Linked DNA regions of Homo sapiens. Each later gene encodes a partner of the first gene's protein in a complex. Each region holds a gene or a part of one and is shown in the gene's direction. Other genes may lie near its edges.

Region 1 (6,018 bases):
CTCAGGGGATCCACCTGCCTCGGCCTCCCAAAGTGCTAGGATTACAGGTGTGAGCCACTATGCCTGGCCTCCACCTGGATCCTTTTACAAAGCACCTCAGTGAGTCAGAGGACAAGAAGGTAAAATCTGTTTTAAAAAATAACAGCCAACATGAGGTAGATACTATTATTCTCATTCCATTTTTTTTACAAATGAGGAAATGGAGGCTCAGAGAGGTTAAAAGTCACCTGCTTAAGTCCATAAGGAATTAGCAGAGCCAGAATTCAGGGACCCCAACTCCCGAACCCTTCTCTGACAAGCACTACACTATCTATTCAAAATACCTACTGGATCTTACTAAGTTGACAACCAAATACTTCAGAAGCTATAAATTAAAAGATTACACCTGGCGTGGTGGCTCACGCCTGTAATCCCAGCACTTTGGGAGGCCGAGGTGGGTGGATCATGAGGTCAGGAGTTCAAGATCAGCCTGGCCAAGATGGTGAAACCCTGTCTCTACTAAAAGTACAAAAATTACAGCGCACCTGTAATCCCAGCTACTCGTGAGGCTGAGGCAGGAGAATTGCTTGAACCTGGTGGGTGGAGCTTGCAGTGAGCCAAGATCATTCCACTGCACTCCGGCCTAGGCGACAGAGCAAGACTCCGTCTCAAAAAAAAAAAAAAAAAAAAAAAAAGACTCATCAGTGATGACACTTCTTCTAGGTATTAAATAACATAGTCCAGGTATTTGGTTTACTATTACAGGAAGAACTGCCTTAAGAGAAGTTAAAACTGTATCTTCCTTGGAGCCATCTCTTAGAAATCCTAATTCTGTCTCACATGCTAGGTGATTCTGATGGTTATTCTTGGACCATACTTTGAGAAATATGGCTCCAGATAAGTAGATATCTATTATCATGTTCATTGGATTAGATTCTCAACTACCTCTCTACTGAGAGGTGTATCACCCAGGTTGAGTCCTTATAATATTACTTAATCACTCTGACCCTTGTCTATAAAATGGAAATACTATTTACTTAGGTTTGTTGTGAGGAATAAATGAGGAAGGAGAAAATATTAAAAAGTAAACATTTTTAAAAGAAGTATGAGAATGAACTACTCCTACAAAATATAAAAACATACTATTAGGGCCAGGAGTAGGGGCTCACGCCTGTAATCCTAACACTTTGGGAGGTTGAGGTGGGCGGATCACTTGAGGTCAGGAGTTAGGAAACCAGCCTGGCCAACATGGTGAAACTCCATCTCTACCAAAAAGTACAAAAAAAAATTTAGCTGGGCATGGTGGCAGGTGCCTGTAATCCCAGCTACTCAGGAGGCTGAGGCACAAGAATCGCTTGAACCCGGGAGGCGGGGGTTGCAGTGAGCCAAGATTGCACCACTGCACTCCAGACTGAGTGACAGCGTGAGACCTTGTCTCAAAAAACAAAAAAAAAGACAGAAAAACAAAAAATATACTATTAAGTTGAGCCTTATGAAATGCTACTGCTTGGTCGTTTTTGACCTACAAAAATGGCAATGTCATAATTGAATCAAAATATAAAATTATAGTAATTCTTTAAATGAAGTATTGTTGCAGGAATAGGCAGACCTAGAGTATAGAAAAGCACATCCGTGAAACAGGCCCATGTGTACATGGAAATTTAGTTTACCAGAGTGGTATTACAAATAAAAATAAATTGGGTGCTTGGTGGTTTTTTTTTTTTTTTTTTTTGAGACAGGCTCTCATTCTCTCGCCCGGGCTGGAGTGCAGTGGTACGATCCTAGTTCACTGGAGCCTCAAACCCCTGGGCTCAAGCTGTCCTCCTGCCTCAGCCTTCTGAGTAGCTAGGACTACTAAACTCTTCTATAAATGGGTAATTGCGATAACTAGCTACCTGTTGGAAAAAAGTAAAGTTAATCCTCCTTTCACATTATACTCCAAAATGACCTGTAGATGTAACCAAATAACTAATTTTTTAAAGAAACTAACAATATTAGGAGAAATTATTTTTTAAAAGTATTTTTATGAGCCAGGTATAGTGGCACACCTGCAGTCCCAGCTCCTCCGAAGGCTGAGGCAAGAAGATCACTTGAGCCTATGAGTTTGAGGGCCAGCCTGGGCAACACAGCAAGACTGTCTCTATTTTATTTTTTGAAAGTATTTTTATAATCTTAGATAGAAAAGGCCTTTGTACGGGAGACATAAAAACCTAGAATCCAGAACAACAAAACATGATACATTGAATATCAAAATTTAGAACTACCTGATGAAAAACATCATAAAGTAAAAAAGACAAACAGCAGACTGGGAAAAATGTCATATATAAAATAGACAAAAAAATTAAAGTCTAGAATATATAAAGAACCATAGCTCAAAAAGAAAAAGACAATGGAACAGGCAAAGGATATAGGCAACAATCCACAGAATAAGAAATATATGACAGAAGAAAAACTAAAAAAAAAAAAGAAATATAAAAGATTAAATATGTAAAAAGATGCCAACCTCACTAGTAGATAAGAAAATGCTAGTTATATATTAGCACTGTATGACCCTTGGCAAGGCATTACCAGAACCCACCTCAACCCTGGCAAAAGGCTGGCATCAGAGTGGCATCTTACCTTTGACACATAGTAACGATCAACTCCAGAGATGCGCCTATCTCTTTCCATCAGACTCCAGTGATACCCAAAATGAGCAACCCTTTTTTCCTTCAAATAAGAGACAATTATTGTTGCAGTTTATAAAAGTGAGTGACCCAATTGATAGATACTACAATTTTTAAAAGGGACATTCCAGAGAAATGGAATCATCGTTTAAATAAAAATGCAAATTAGTAGTACAAAGAACAGAATCTCCTAAATAAAATCAGACCACTAAACTTTAGGATTAAGTTGGTACCTGTGACTTTTTACACTATTTTAACCAACATGAATTTTTTTTCCTTTTTTTTTAAAAAAAAAAAAAAAGAAATATCTAGTTGTTGTCTTTTGGGACACTAAGAAACAACAGCTGTAGATCACACGTGAAGAACAATAACAAAATCAAAAAGTAAATAAATTTATATCCTGTACTCTTGAGATGATGTGAAGGACTAGGAAGAGGGGAAAATGAATCCTGATGTAAAAAAACAAGATCTCGCAGTAAATTCCTAAAGGCTTGCAAGAGAAAGTGGGGAATAAAAAAGTCAAGGGTGGCCGGTCGCGGCGGCTCACGCCTGTAATCCCAGCACTTTGGGAGATCAAGGCGGGTGGATCAACCGAGGTCAGAAGTTCGAGACCAGCCTCGCCAACATGATGAAACCCCGCCTCTACAAAAAAAAAAAAAAAGCCAGGCGTGGTCCCGGCTACTCGGGAGGCTGAAGCAGGAAAATTTCTTTCTTTATTTATTTTTTTTTGAGACGGAGTTTCGCTCTTGTTGCCCAGGCTGGAGTGCAGTGGCGCGATCTCGGCTCATCGCAACCTCCGCCTCCTGGGTTCAAGTGATTCTCCTGCCTCAGCCTCCCGAGTAGCTGGGATTACAGGCATGCGCCACCACGCCCAGCTAATTTTGTATTTTTAGGAGAGACGGGGTTTCTCCATGTTGGTCAGGCTGGTATCGAACTCCCGACCTCAGGTGATCCGCTCGCCTCGGTCTCCCAAAGTGCTGGGATTACAGGCGTGATCCACCGCGCCCAACCAGGAGAATCTCTTGAACCCAGAAGGCGGAGGTTGCAGTGAGCGATTCTCAGGCTTGAGCCACCTTTTCTAATCTACCTTCCCGGCCCCCGCGTCGCTACTCTGCCCTAAGGCCCACTCTGATACACCCAGAAACGCTGTTTTTCACTAGAGCAGGATGTAGTTTCTATCGGGCTTCGTTTCGCAAGCCTCGGCTTCTAGGCAACCGGAAGCAAGTAGAGGGCCGACCTCGGAGAGAGGGTTCGCAGGCTGACGGTCTCCCTGCCCACCACCCTTTTCGGAAATCAGCCCGTGGAGTCGGCCCCCGGGCCGAAGCCGGCTTACCTTGCCCCCGTTAGTGAACCTGTGGATGTACGCAGTAGCCAGTCCTGGAATCAACAAGCACACGCCCATGACGGAGAGTCCGGGGAGAATCTCGAACCACATCTCTGCCCCGTTACCTAGGCCAAAACCCTACTTCTGGGTCCTTGAAAGGTGACCTGGCTTCGCCTCTCTTCCCAGCAAGCCCCGCGGCCGCCCGCGAGCGGGGCGGTGCCACGTACGGCTCCGGAAGAAGCGACGGAATCTGCTAGGGCACAAGAGAGACGGGCGCTCGGGCTCTCGCAGTCCTCTTCCGTCAGTGTCTTTTGCTTCGACTCCCGGCGGAGCGCGCAACGTGGAGTGACGTGCAGGGGCCAAGTGCAACCCAGGCAGCCACGGCTGTTTCGGAGCTCAGGACTCTAAAATGGCAGAGCAGCTTTCTCCAGGAAAGGCGGTGGATCAGGTGTGCACCTTCCTTTTCAAAAAGCCTGGGCGGAAAGGGGCTGCTGGACGCAGAAAGCGCCCGGCCTGCGACCCAGAGCCCGGAGAAAGCGGCAGCAGTAGCGACGAAGGCTGCACTGTGGTTCGACCGGAAAAGAAGCGGGTGACCCACAATCCAATGATACAGAAGACCCGTGACAGTGGTAAACAGAAGGCGGCTTACGGCGACTTGAGCAGCGAAGAGGAAGAGGAAAATGAGCCCGAGAGTCTCGGCGTGGTTTATAAATCCACCCGTTCGGCGAAACCCGTGGGACCAGAGGATATGGGAGCGACAGCTGTCTATGAGCTGGACACAGAGAAAGAGCGCGATGCACAAGCCATCTTTGAGCGCAGCCAGAAGATCCAGGAGGAGCTGAGGGGCAAGGAGGATGACAAGATCTATCGGGGAATCAACAATTATCAGAAATACATGAAGCCCAAGGATACGTCTATGGGCAATGCCTCTTCCGGGATGGTGAGGAAGGGCCCCATCCGAGCGCCCGAGCATCTACGTGCCACCGTGCGCTGGGATTACCAGCCCGACATCTGTAAGGACTACAAAGAGACTGGCTTCTGCGGCTTCGGAGACAGCTGCAAATTCCTCCATGACCGTTCAGATTACAAGCATGGGTGGCAGATCGAACGTGAGCTTGATGAGGGTCGCTATGGTGTCTATGAGGATGAAAACTATGAAGTGGGAAGCGATGATGAGGAAATACCATTCAAGTGTTTCATCTGTCGCCAGAGCTTCCAAAACCCAGTTGTCACCAAGTGCAGGCATTATTTCTGCGAGAGCTGTGCACTGCAGCATTTCCGCACCACCCCGCGCTGCTATGTCTGTGACCAGCAGACCAATGGCGTCTTCAATCCAGCGAAAGAATTGATTGCTAAACTAGAGAAGCATCGAGCTACAGGAGAGGGTGGTGCTTCCGACTTGCCAGAAGACCCCGATGAGGATGCAATTCCCATTACTTAGGTTTCCCATAATTCTTAAATTTAAAAAATAAACGTTTTGTTCTTTTGGAAGTCTTACTTCGTGTCCTTCCTTTGTAGAGAAAGTGACAGAGCAGGCGGGTGGTGAAGTAGGGTCCTGGATTAAAAGCTTCAAGGTAGGTATAATCAGGATTTTTAGCCCTAGGATAACCATTTTGCCTGTGTTTCTTTTCAGAACACTTTGGCATAAATTATAGGGGTGGGAGTAGTTTGAGAAAAGAGCTATAATTTGCTCGAAGTAACCAAAGCCATGATGAAAGCAAGACCTCTGAGCCTGTTTATTATATCACATTTCTGTATCACTTAATAGTTTACAAAGTACTTTCATGCATTCTTTCTCTTGGGAGCCTGTACTACAAAATATACCCGAGCCAAGGTGTTGGGGAGAGGGGTTGTGTTTGGGGAACTGGTAGCTAGCACCACAGGCTTCACATATGGGAAATGTTCCTTGCTGTCTTGGTTATTTATTTATTTATTTGTTTTTGAGACGGAGTCTCGCTCTCTTGCCCAGGCTAGAGTGCAGTGGCGCGATCTCAGCTCACTGCAACCTCCGCCTCCCCGGTTCAAGCGATTCCCCTGCCTCAGCCTCCC
Region 2 (6,960 bases), about 71 Mb from region 1:
AAATATGGTATGTCCCCATTTCATTCAATTTTATATTTTTTTCTTTTCTTTTCTTTTATTTATTTATTTATTTATTTATTTGAGAGGGAGTTTAGCTCTGTCACCCAGGCTGGAGTCCAGTGGCACAATCTCAGCTCACCACAACCCCTGCCTCCTGGGTTCAAGCGATGCTCCTGCCTCAGCCTCCCGAGTAACTGGGATTATCGGTAACCACTACCACACATGGCTAATTTTTTATTTTTAGTACAGATGGGGTTTCACCATGTTGGCCAGGCTGGTCTCGAACTCCCGACCTCAGAGGATCTGCCTGCCTCAGCCTCCCAAAGCGCTGGGATTATAGGCATGAGCCACCGTGCCCAGTCCATTTAATTATATTTATAGCAGCTGGTCATGCAGTGACTCACGCCTGTAATCTCAGCACTTTGGGAGGCCAAGGCAGTCGGATTACCTGAGGTGAGGAGTTTGAGACTAACCTGGCCAACATGGCAAAATCCCACCTCTACTGAAAATAGAAAAATTAGCCCAGCGTTGTGTCAGGCACCTCTAATCCCAGCTACTCAGGAGGCTGAGGCACGAGAATCGCTTGAACCTGGGAGGTGGAGGTTGCAGTGAGCCGAAATCACACCACTACACTCCAGCCTGGGCAACAGAGTGAGACCCTGTCTCAAAAAAAATATATATGTATATATATATATATTTTATATATATATATTTATTTACAACTTCCAATGTAAAGGCGTATTTCTTTCATCCAAGGTGTGTGCTGTAATTCATTTACTGCATCCCCTTCTGTTGATAATTTAAGTGGTCTTCAAGCTTTTGCCACAATAATATGATAATGAATCTCATAAAAAATTATTTTACACATCTTCAATGATATCCTTGAGCCTAATTTGTAGCAGAATTATATTACTCTTTCTTAAGAATATTTAAGTATCTGTCATCTACTGTACAAACTATTTTATTTTTATTTTACTTATTTACTTTTTTAGAGGCAGGATCTTGCTCTGTCACACAAGCTATAGTGCAGTGCCACGATCATAGCTCACTGTATCCACCAACTCCTGGCCTCAAGTAATCCTCCTGCCTCAGCCTCCCATAGTGCTGAAAGTACAGGTGTGAGCCACCACACCCAGCAACTCTGTATAAGCCACTCTGTATAAACTCTTTTTTTTTTTCATTTTAAATTTTTTTTCATTTTCTAAGGCAGAGTTTCACTCTGTCGCCCAAGCTGGAGTGCAATGACGTGATCTCGGCTCACTGCAACCTCCACCTCCCGGGTTCAAGCGATTCTCATGCCTCAGCCTCCTGAGTAGCTGGAACCACAGGCGCCTGCCACCATGCCCGGCCAATTTTTGTATGTTTAGTAGAGACAGAGTTTTGCCATGTTTGCCAGGTTGGTCTTGAACTCCTGGCCTCAAGTGATCCACCTGCCTCGGCTTCTCAGAGTGCTGGGATTACAGGCATGAACCACCGCACCCTGCCTGTATGAACTCTTGAGGTCCTACACAAGAGAGATCTGTCTCAATAATCTTTTTTTTTTTTAATTTTCTGACTGCTTCATTTTTCCTTCATATCAGTAATCTTTGAAGCCTTAGGACCTGGTTCTCACAATATGTTTAATGTTGCTATATGTATATGTGTGTGTGTTGCCCAGGCTGTAGTGCTGTGGCCTGATCACCGCTCAGTGCATCCTCAACCTCCTGGGCTGAAGTGATCCTCCCCCCTCAGCCCTCTGAGTAGCTGGGTCCACAGATGTGCGCCACCACACCCCATTAATTTTTAAATTTTTTTGTAGAGTCAGGGTGTCACTAGGTTGCCCAGGGTGGTCTCAAAGTCCTGAGCTCAAACAATCCTCCTGCCTAGGCCTCCCAAAGTGCTGGGATTATAGGCGTGAGCCACTAAGCTCGGCACATGTTGCTATATTTTTAAAATATGTATTTAAATGTCTGTATTCCCTACTAGACTACAAGTTTCTTTTTTTTCTTTTTCTTTTCTTTTTCTTTTTTTTTTTTTTTGAGACAGAGTCTCGCTCTGTTGCCCAGGCTGGAGTGCAGTGGGGCAATCTTGGCTCACTGCAACTTCCACCTACTAGGTTCAAGCGATTCTCCTGCCTCCACCTCCCGAGTAGCTGGGATTACAAGCATGTGCCACCACACCCGGCTAATTTTTGTATTTTTAGTGGAGATTGGGTTTTGCCATGTTGGCCAGGCTGGTCTCAAACTCTTGACCTCAGGTGGTCCGCCCGCCTAGGTCTCCCAAAGTGCTGGGATTACAGGCATGAGCCACTGTGCCCAGCCTATTTTATTGATATTTGAATCTAGTGCCTTGTTGAGTATTAAAATCTGACATCAGTAGGCACTATTCTTTTTCTTTTTTTTTTTTTTTTTTTTTTGTTTTTCTTTTGTTTTTCTTTTGTTTTTGAGACTGAGTGTCACTCTATAGCCCAGGCCGGAGTGTTGAGATCTCGGCTCACTGTAACCTCCGCCTCCCGGGTTCAAGCGATTCTCCTGCCTCAACCTCCCGAGTAGCTGGGATTACAGGCATGCGCCACCACACCCCGCTAATTTTTGTATTTTCAGTAGAGACGGGGTTTCACCATGTTGGCCAGGCTGGTCTCGAACTACTGGCCTCAAGTGATCCGCCCGCCTCGGCCTCCTAAAGTGCTGGGATTACGGGTATGAGCCTGGCCAATAGGCACTATTTCTTTCTTTCTTTCTTTTTTCTTTTTTAAGACGGAGTCTCGCTCTGTCGCCCAGGCTGGAGTGCAGTGGCAGGATCTCGGCTCACTGCAAACTCTGTCTCCCGGATTCAAGCAATCCTCCTGTCTCAGCCTCCCAAGTAGCTGGGGATACAGGCGCCACCACCACGCCCGGCTAATTTTTGTATTTTTAGTAGAGACAGGGTTTCACCATATGAGTCAGGCTGGTCTCAAAGTCCTGACCTCAGGTGATCCACCAGCCTCGGCCTCCCAAAATGCTGGGATTACAGGCATGAGCCACCACACCCCTCTAATTTTTGTATTTTCAGTAGAGACGGGGTTTTTTATGTCTATTATTTATTTTATGTCTATTATTTATTATTGTACACAACTGACGCTCCATCCCCCCCACCCCCGACCTTTTTCTTTTTTAGAGATGGGGTCTCGCTCTGTCACCCAGGCTGGAATGCAGTGGTGCGATAAGAGCTAAGTGCAGCCTCGAATTCCCAGGCCTCAGGCCATCCTCCTGCCTCAGCCTGCGGAGTAAATGGAACTACAGGTGCGCGCCACCACACCCAGCTGATTATTTCTAAATGATTTACTTCATCAACACTTCCCACATAAGTAGGGCACACATTAGGCGCTCCATAAATACTTGTCAAACGCCTACACGAAGGAAGATTAATGTCTGGCAAGAATGAATCCACCTTCCACCATGCCTACCCCGCTAAAAACTACATTTCCAGCCAGGCGTGGTGGCTCACACCTGTAATCCCAGCACTGTGGGAGGCCGAGGCAGGAGAATCACGAGGTCAGGAAATCGAGACCATCCTGGCTAACACGGTGAAACCCCGTCTCTACTAAAAATACAAAAATTAGCCAGGCGTGGTGGCGCATGCCTTTAGTCTCAGCTACTCGGGAGGCTGAGGCAGGAGAATCGCTTGAACCTGGGAGGCGGAGGTTGCAGTGAGCCGAGATCACGCCACTGCACTCCAGCCTGTGAAACAGAGCGAGACTCCATCTTAAAAAACAAAACAAAACAAACAAAAAAAAAACTACATTTCCCTGGGCGCTTGGCGCGACGCGCTCCCACCACGTTTGAAAGAGCGACAATTACTTCCCACGGCCCCTTACCGCCCCCTCCCGCCGGTGCCACAGTGGTTGATGGGAAGGTAGTTTTTACGCACTTTGGCCGGCCCCTAGCGATCTGAACCCAAACTAAATTTCCCAGCAAGCAGCGCGCCGGCCTGGGAAAAGGAGCAAGATGGCTGACTCCAAAGAGGGTGTTTTGCCGCTGACGGCTGCTTCCACTGCCCCAATTTCATTCGGCTTCACTCGCACGTCCGCACGGAGGCGGCTGGCCGACTCGGGAGACGGCGCGGGGCCATCTCCGGAGGAGAAGGATTTCTTGAAAACCGTGGAAGGGAGGGAGCTGCAGAGGTGACGCGCCGGGTCTTTCACCCCTTGGAAATCTCTGCGGTGGGCGTAAGCGGGAGGGAGGAATCTCAGTTGTTTGTCTTGGTGACAGTGACCTGTTAAGCCTGAAGCACAGCCTGAGTAAATTCGTGGAGGCCAGAAGGCGGGAGTTTATAGGAGGGGGTGAGGAAATTGGGCCTGATAGCTGTGGGAATTGCGAAGAGAGGATGTATTACTGAGAAGAAGTGTCTTTAGGACTTGAAGACACTAAGGTCTGTGCGTTCTGGGAGAAGGAAAGAATGAGAAAATGACAGGACCTGCTAGTGTCTCAACTGAAGGGCTGAGGCGTCCCCGATATGGGGAACGGGATGGAGCGGCAGATTCAGGTTGATGGAGGCCACCATCAGCTTAATGAGGAGAGGAGTGTCTGAGGGGTCTGAGGGAGGGATTTCCAGAAGAGAATCAGGCATCTAGGAAGCTGTTTGGGAACCTGGAGCTGGGGAAGGTCTGGGCTGAAGATAGTGATTTGTGGGCCATTGTAGAAGCCGGTATTGAGTTAAACAGAGAGTGCAGGACTTATTTCTCGAAGGCACTGACATTTATGAGTTGGGGGCACTGGGGAGATAATCCAGAGAATGCACGATCAGAGAGGAACAGGAGATCCAGACATGGAGTAGGGAAGACATGGTCTGTGGGGCTGGGGTGAGTTTGGCTCTTGTGTTTTCTCTGAATGAAGGAGTGTGACCCACTGACCCTGCCATTCTCCCAACCCCACCCCTCTGTGTCCACATCAGTGTGAAGCCCCAGGAGGCCCCCAAGGAACTCGTCATCCCTTTGATCCAGAATGGCCATCGCAGGCAGCCACCAGCCCGGCCCCCTGGGCCATCCACAGATACTGGGGCCTTGGCGGATGGGGTGGTGTCCCAGGCTGTGAAGGAGCTCATTGCGGGTGAGTGATACCCCTTTACCCTTCCCCATTGAAGGAAGAAGAGGAAGAAGGTGGAAGGATAGAGTGGGACTTCATTGCTCCCTCCTATTCTTCCTTTAGAATCCAAGAAGTCTCTGGAAGAGAGAGAGAATGCGGGTGTCGACCCCACGCTCGCTATCCCCATGATCCAGAAAGGATGCACCCCCAGCGGGGAAGGGGCAGACAGCGAACCCCGGGCAGAGACAGTGAGCTGGCCCCTTGTCCCCCTCCTGCCCCAGCCTTTCTTTGCCCTGTCCGCCAGGCTGTGTCCCTGCACGTAGCAGGGAAAGTCTGTGTGTGTGCTAGAGGCCCGCCACCTGCCCCTTCTCCTGTCATCATTTTGGAAGCATTACCAAATGAATCTGGGTATCTGGATGCTAAAAACGTACTTGAATCCTAGGATTATCTGAATGAGGTGTGCAGCAAAGGGAACAGGAAATGTAAAGGCCCTGAAGGTAGACACTGCCTAAAGTGTTTGCGGAACACCAAGGAGACCAGTGTGACTGAAGTGGAATGAGTAAGGGGAAGGGGTAGTAGACGAAGTCAGAAAGGAGATGGGGGTGCTAGACCAGGCAGGGCCTTGTAGGCCATTGTGAGGACTTTGGCTTTTACTCTGAGTGAGATGAGAGCCTGGACAAGCCCTGAGCATAGATGAAATATGATTTATGATTTGACAGTATCCCTCTGGAAGCTGTGAACAGACTCATTAGTGAAGGTGGAAGCAAGGGGATGAGTAGTCCAGGCTAGAGATGCTGGGGACTTAGACCAGAGTGGTCTGGAAGGATAAGTAGGGTTTAGTGAGAGAGGGAAGAACAGAGTGAGTACTCCTGTTAGTAGTAACAGCCCAAGCAATGGCATAGTGGTAGAAAATCGATATGGTGTGTCCATCAGTGAGGCAACATGTGGTGTATCTGGAGTGAATGGGAAGGAGTGATGATGGGAGGTGACAAGAGGGGACGTGAGAGGCATGTCTACAGAAGTAACCAAGTCTGTCTTTCATACCCACAGACCTGACTTTTCACCTCTTCTTTCATAAATTTCTTGCACTGCTTCTTTTGAGTCTAGTTCTTCTACAGCCCCACACCACTCTCTCTTTCAACTGAACTGTTCTCTTCAGCCTTCAGATGTGCCCTGGTTTCCTTCAACATTTTTTTGTTTGTTTGTTTTTTGTTTTTTGAGATAGAGTCTTGCCCTGTCGCCCAGGCTGGAGTGAAGTGGTGTGATCTCGGCTCACTGCAACCTCCCGGTCCTGGGATCAAGCGATTCTCCTGCCTCAGCCTCCCAAGTAGCTGGGATTACAGACACGTGTCACTACCGCCTGGCTAATTTTTGTATTTTTAGTAGAGACGAGGTTTCGCCACGTTGGTCAGGCTGGCCTTGAACTCCTGACCTCAAGTGATCTACCCACCTCAGCCTCCCAAAGTGCTGGGATTACCGGCGTGAGCCACTGTGCCCAGCTCCTTCATCTTTAAAGAAAAAAAAGATCCTCACTTCCCTCTTCATCCTTTCATCCTGTTCCAGCTTTGGCCTCATTCTTCTAATTTTTCCCTCTATAAACCTCCTCCTGCAGCTTTCTACATATCAGGTGACCAAAAATTCCATCCATCCTTCCTCTCACTCAGCATAAAAACCTTGGAGTCAGCCAGGGGCGGTGGCTCACGCCTGTAATCCCAACACTTTGAGAGGCTGAGGCCAGCGGATCACCTGAGGTCAGGAGTTCAAGACCAGCCTGGCCAACATGGCGAAACCCCATCACTAGTAAAAATACAAAAATTAGCTGGGCATGGTGGCACGTGCCTGTAATCACAGCTACTCGGGAGGCTGAGGCAGGAGAATCGCTTGAACCCAGGAGACTGAGGTTGCAGTGAGCTGAGAT
Region 3 (3,500 bases), on another chromosome or scaffold:
GGACATTAGACCTTTTTCAGATGCACAGTTTGTGAATATTCTCTCCCATTCTGTAGGTTGTCTGTTTACTGTATTGATAGTTCCTTTTGCGGTGCAGAAGCTCTTTAGTTTGATTAGGTTCCACTTGTCAATTTTTGTTTTTGTTGCAATTGCTTTTGAGGACTTAGCCGTAAGTTCTTTCCCATAGCTGATGTCCAGATGTTATTTCGTAGGTTTTCTTCTAGGACTCTTATAGCTTGAAGTCTTACATTTAAATCTTTTTTTTTTTTTTTCCCCAAAGACAGAGTCTCCTTCTGTTGCCCAGGCTGGAGTACAGTGGTACAATCTTGGCTCACCACAACCTCCACCTCCCAGGCTCAAGCGATTCTCATGCCTCAGCCTCCCAACCTAACTGGGATTACAGGCACATGCCACCACGCCTGGCTAATTTTTCTATTTTTAGTAGGAATGGGGTTTTACCATGTTGGCCAGGCTGGTCTTGAATTCCGAGCCTCAAGTGATCCACCCACCTCAGTCTCCCAAAGTGCTGGGATTACAGGCATGAGCCACTGCACCCGGCCCCTTATATTTAAATCTTTAATCTATCTTGAGGTAATTTTATATATATGGTGAAAGGGGTCCAGTTTGAGTCTTCTGCATATGGCTAGACAGCTGTTCCAGCACCATTTATTGAATTAGGGAATCCTTTCTCTGTTGCTTATTTTTGTTAACTTTGTCAAAGGTCAGATGGCTGTAGGTGTGTAGCTTTATTTCTGTCTGTTCCATTCCATTGGTCTATGGGTCTGTTTTTATATCTGTACCATGCTGTTTTGGTTACTGTAGCTTCCTTATAGTATAGTTTAACTCAGGTAATGTGATACCTCAGCTTTGTTTTATTTGCTTAGGATTGATTTTTTGGTTCCATATGAATTTTAGAATGGATTTTTTCTTTTTTTTTTTTTTTGAGACGGAGTCTTGCTGTGTCTCCCAGGCTCTGAGTGCAGCTGTGCAATCTCAGCTCACTGCAACCTCTGCCTCCTGAGTTCAAGCAATTCTCCTGCCTCAGCCTCCCAAATAGCTGGGATTACAGGAGCCCGCCAACCATGCCCAGCTAATTTATGTAATTTTAGTAGAGATGGGGTTTCATCATCTTAGCCAGGCTGGTCTTGAACTCCTGACGTTGTGATCCACCCGCCTCAGCCTCCCAAAGTGCTGGGATTACAGGCGTGAGCCACTGGACCCGGCAGGATTTTTCTAATTCTGTGAAAAATGATGTTTGTAGTTTGATAGGAATAGCATTGAATCTGTGGATTGCTTTGGGCAGTATGGCCATTTTAATGATATTGATTCTTCTAGCTCATGAGCTTGGAATGTTTTTCCATTTGTTTGTGTCATCTCTGATTTCTTTCAGCGTGTTTTGTAGTTCTTGTCCAGCTCACATTTTATCTTCATACTTTGAGTAGCCTCCTTCCATGAATGGATCATCCAGTGGCCGCACTTAGGTTCTCCTATGAAGATTTTTGTTGTATTGTACCTCAGAACCATCTCCATATTCTCTAAATAATAATAATGATGGTCATAAATTGAATAGAAGTATTTACTAGATGAGGAGGAAAACCCTAAAACAAAACATGAACATAAAATATTTTTAAAAGGAAGACATACAAACAGACACTATAACCAAATAAGATGACAGAATTAAGGCCTTATGCCACAGCCAGAGTTGAAAAATGCAGAAAAAAAGTTTAAAAACAAGGAATTAAAGCCAAACCTAACTTTTATCAAAATAAATGTAAAAGTGATGAAAGAATCTGTTAAGATATCAGATTGTAATATAAAAGATACTAGAAACAAATGCCAATAGAACACTTAAGTACATTTTATATATTCATCCATTAGAATATATAGCTGTCAGAATGATAGAAGAATTACATATGTGTGCAAAAGTTTTTGTATCCATGTGGAAAACACAGGAAGCTAATAGTACTGTTTTTCTCTGGAGTGGGTGTAAGGGTAGAGACTTAACTCTTTACATCCTTATGGCAGCCTTCGAATACCTTTTAACTCCCAGTTCCCTTAACTGGGGGTGTGTATCCTAGAATCCTCGACCCATTAGAAAGTATATTGTAGACATCATACTCTTTACCCTTTAACACTACACATGCACTTCATAAGAACAAGCATGCTGTCTTACCCAAGTACAGCTATCAAGTTCAGAAATTTAACATTGCCATAATACTTTACAGTCCATATTTCAATTTCATTTGCTGTTTTATTGGTAATTTTTTTCAGCTCCACGATCCAGCCTAGGATCATATGTTGTATTGCCATAACCCTCTAATCTGGAGCAGTTCCTCAGCTTTTCTTTGTTTTTTATAATAGTAATATATTTGAAAAATACAGGACAGCTAAAGGATAGAGTATCCTTCTATTTGGGTTTTTCTGATGTTTCCTCATGGTTAGATTGGGGTAGTGCAGTGAGGGTTGAAATGCTGTAAGTGATATGTATTGCAGGTATACATCCAGATGCACAGAATGTCCATTTGTCCCTTATTGGTGATGCTAATTTTGATCACTTGGGTAAGATGTCCAGTTTCTCCAGTGTATCGTTATTGTTTTTCCTTTTGCAATTAGTGGGTAATTTGTGAGGAGAAACTTTGAGACCTTGTTGACAATTCTGTTCCTCATCAAATCTACCCCTCCTAGGTTTAGCATCCTTTGACGATTCTTGTCTGAATAAATTTTTACTAGGATGTTTCCAAAATTGTGATTGTTCTAACTCTATTATTATTTCTGTATTAATTAGTCATCATTCTACTGTAAGGAAGAGGTTTCCCTTTATCATCAACTTCGAGTAAGTACTTTTTTCTGAGCCATTTGAATATTCCTTACTAGATGTGGTGCCTCTTTACCCCAATTACTTAAGTTTGTATTTCCAAAGAACAAGGGTGTTTTCCTGCATAGCCATAGCACAATTACCAAAATCAGAAAATTAACATTAATACTTTACTATTATCAAATCTTTTTCATATTTTGCTAATTGTTTCAGTAATATGCAAAAAAAAAAAAAAGTCTGATCTGGATCCACTCTGGAGTAACATTACATTTAGTTGTCATGTCTGTAGTCTCATTTATTCTGGAGCAGTTCTTCAGCCAGTCTTTCAAAATGCCAAGGTTATGGGCCAGTTGTATTTTTTTTTTTAATTTCAACTTTTATTTTAGACTCAGGGAGTATATGTGCAAGTTTGTTACATGGGTATATTGCGTGATGCTGAGGTTTGGGGCACCATTGATCCCGACACCCAGGTAGTGAGCATAGTACCCAATAGGTAGTTTTCCAACCCTTGCACCTTCCCTCCCTCCCTCCTCTAGTAGTCCTCAGTGTCTATTGTTCCCAACCCGTAGACTTTTTATAGAGTAACTCTTAATCTGGGTTTTTCTGGTATTTCTTGATGATTAGACTGAGCTTATACATTTTTGGCGGGGATACCACAGAAATGGCATTGTTCTTTTCAGTGCAC

The links. Proteins that work in one complex are often made in the same cells at the same time.
Region 2: RNF113A (region 1) and GPKOW share a complex: the UniProt entries of both Homo sapiens proteins name them as parts of the minor spliceosome.
Region 3: RNF113A (region 1) and CRIPT share a complex: the UniProt entries of both Homo sapiens proteins name them as parts of the minor spliceosome.

Annotation. Positions count from the first base shown.
Region 1 is NC_000023.11:119,869,974-119,875,991, reverse strand, and holds RNF113A (E3 ubiquitin-protein ligase RNF113A), read left to right. Parts: upstream 1-4,258; 5' UTR 4,259-4,378; coding exon 4,379-5,410; 3' UTR 5,411-5,517; downstream 5,518-6,018. Other genes in the region: NDUFA1 (NADH dehydrogenase [ubiquinone] 1 alpha subcomplex subunit 1), read right to left, coding at 2,599-2,688, 3,979-4,080. UniProt on the Homo sapiens protein: Required for pre-mRNA splicing as component of the spliceosome. As a component of the minor spliceosome, involved in the splicing of U12-type introns in pre-mRNAs. E3 ubiquitin-protein ligase that catalyzes the transfer of ubiquitin onto target proteins.
Region 2 is NC_000023.11:49,120,728-49,127,687, reverse strand, and holds the start of GPKOW (G-patch domain and KOW motifs-containing protein), read left to right. Parts: upstream 1-3,952; 5' UTR 3,953-3,965; coding exon 3,966-4,141; intron 4,142-4,911; coding exon 4,912-5,066; intron 5,067-5,165; coding exon 5,166-5,290; intron 5,291-6,960. UniProt on the Homo sapiens protein: RNA-binding protein involved in pre-mRNA splicing. As a component of the minor spliceosome, involved in the splicing of U12-type introns in pre-mRNAs.
Region 3 is NC_000002.12:46,627,185-46,630,684, forward strand, and holds the end of CRIPT (cysteine-rich PDZ-binding protein), read left to right. Parts: 3' UTR 1-2,992; downstream 2,993-3,500. UniProt on the Homo sapiens protein: As a component of the minor spliceosome, involved in the splicing of U12-type introns in pre-mRNAs. Involved in the cytoskeletal anchoring of DLG4 in excitatory synapses.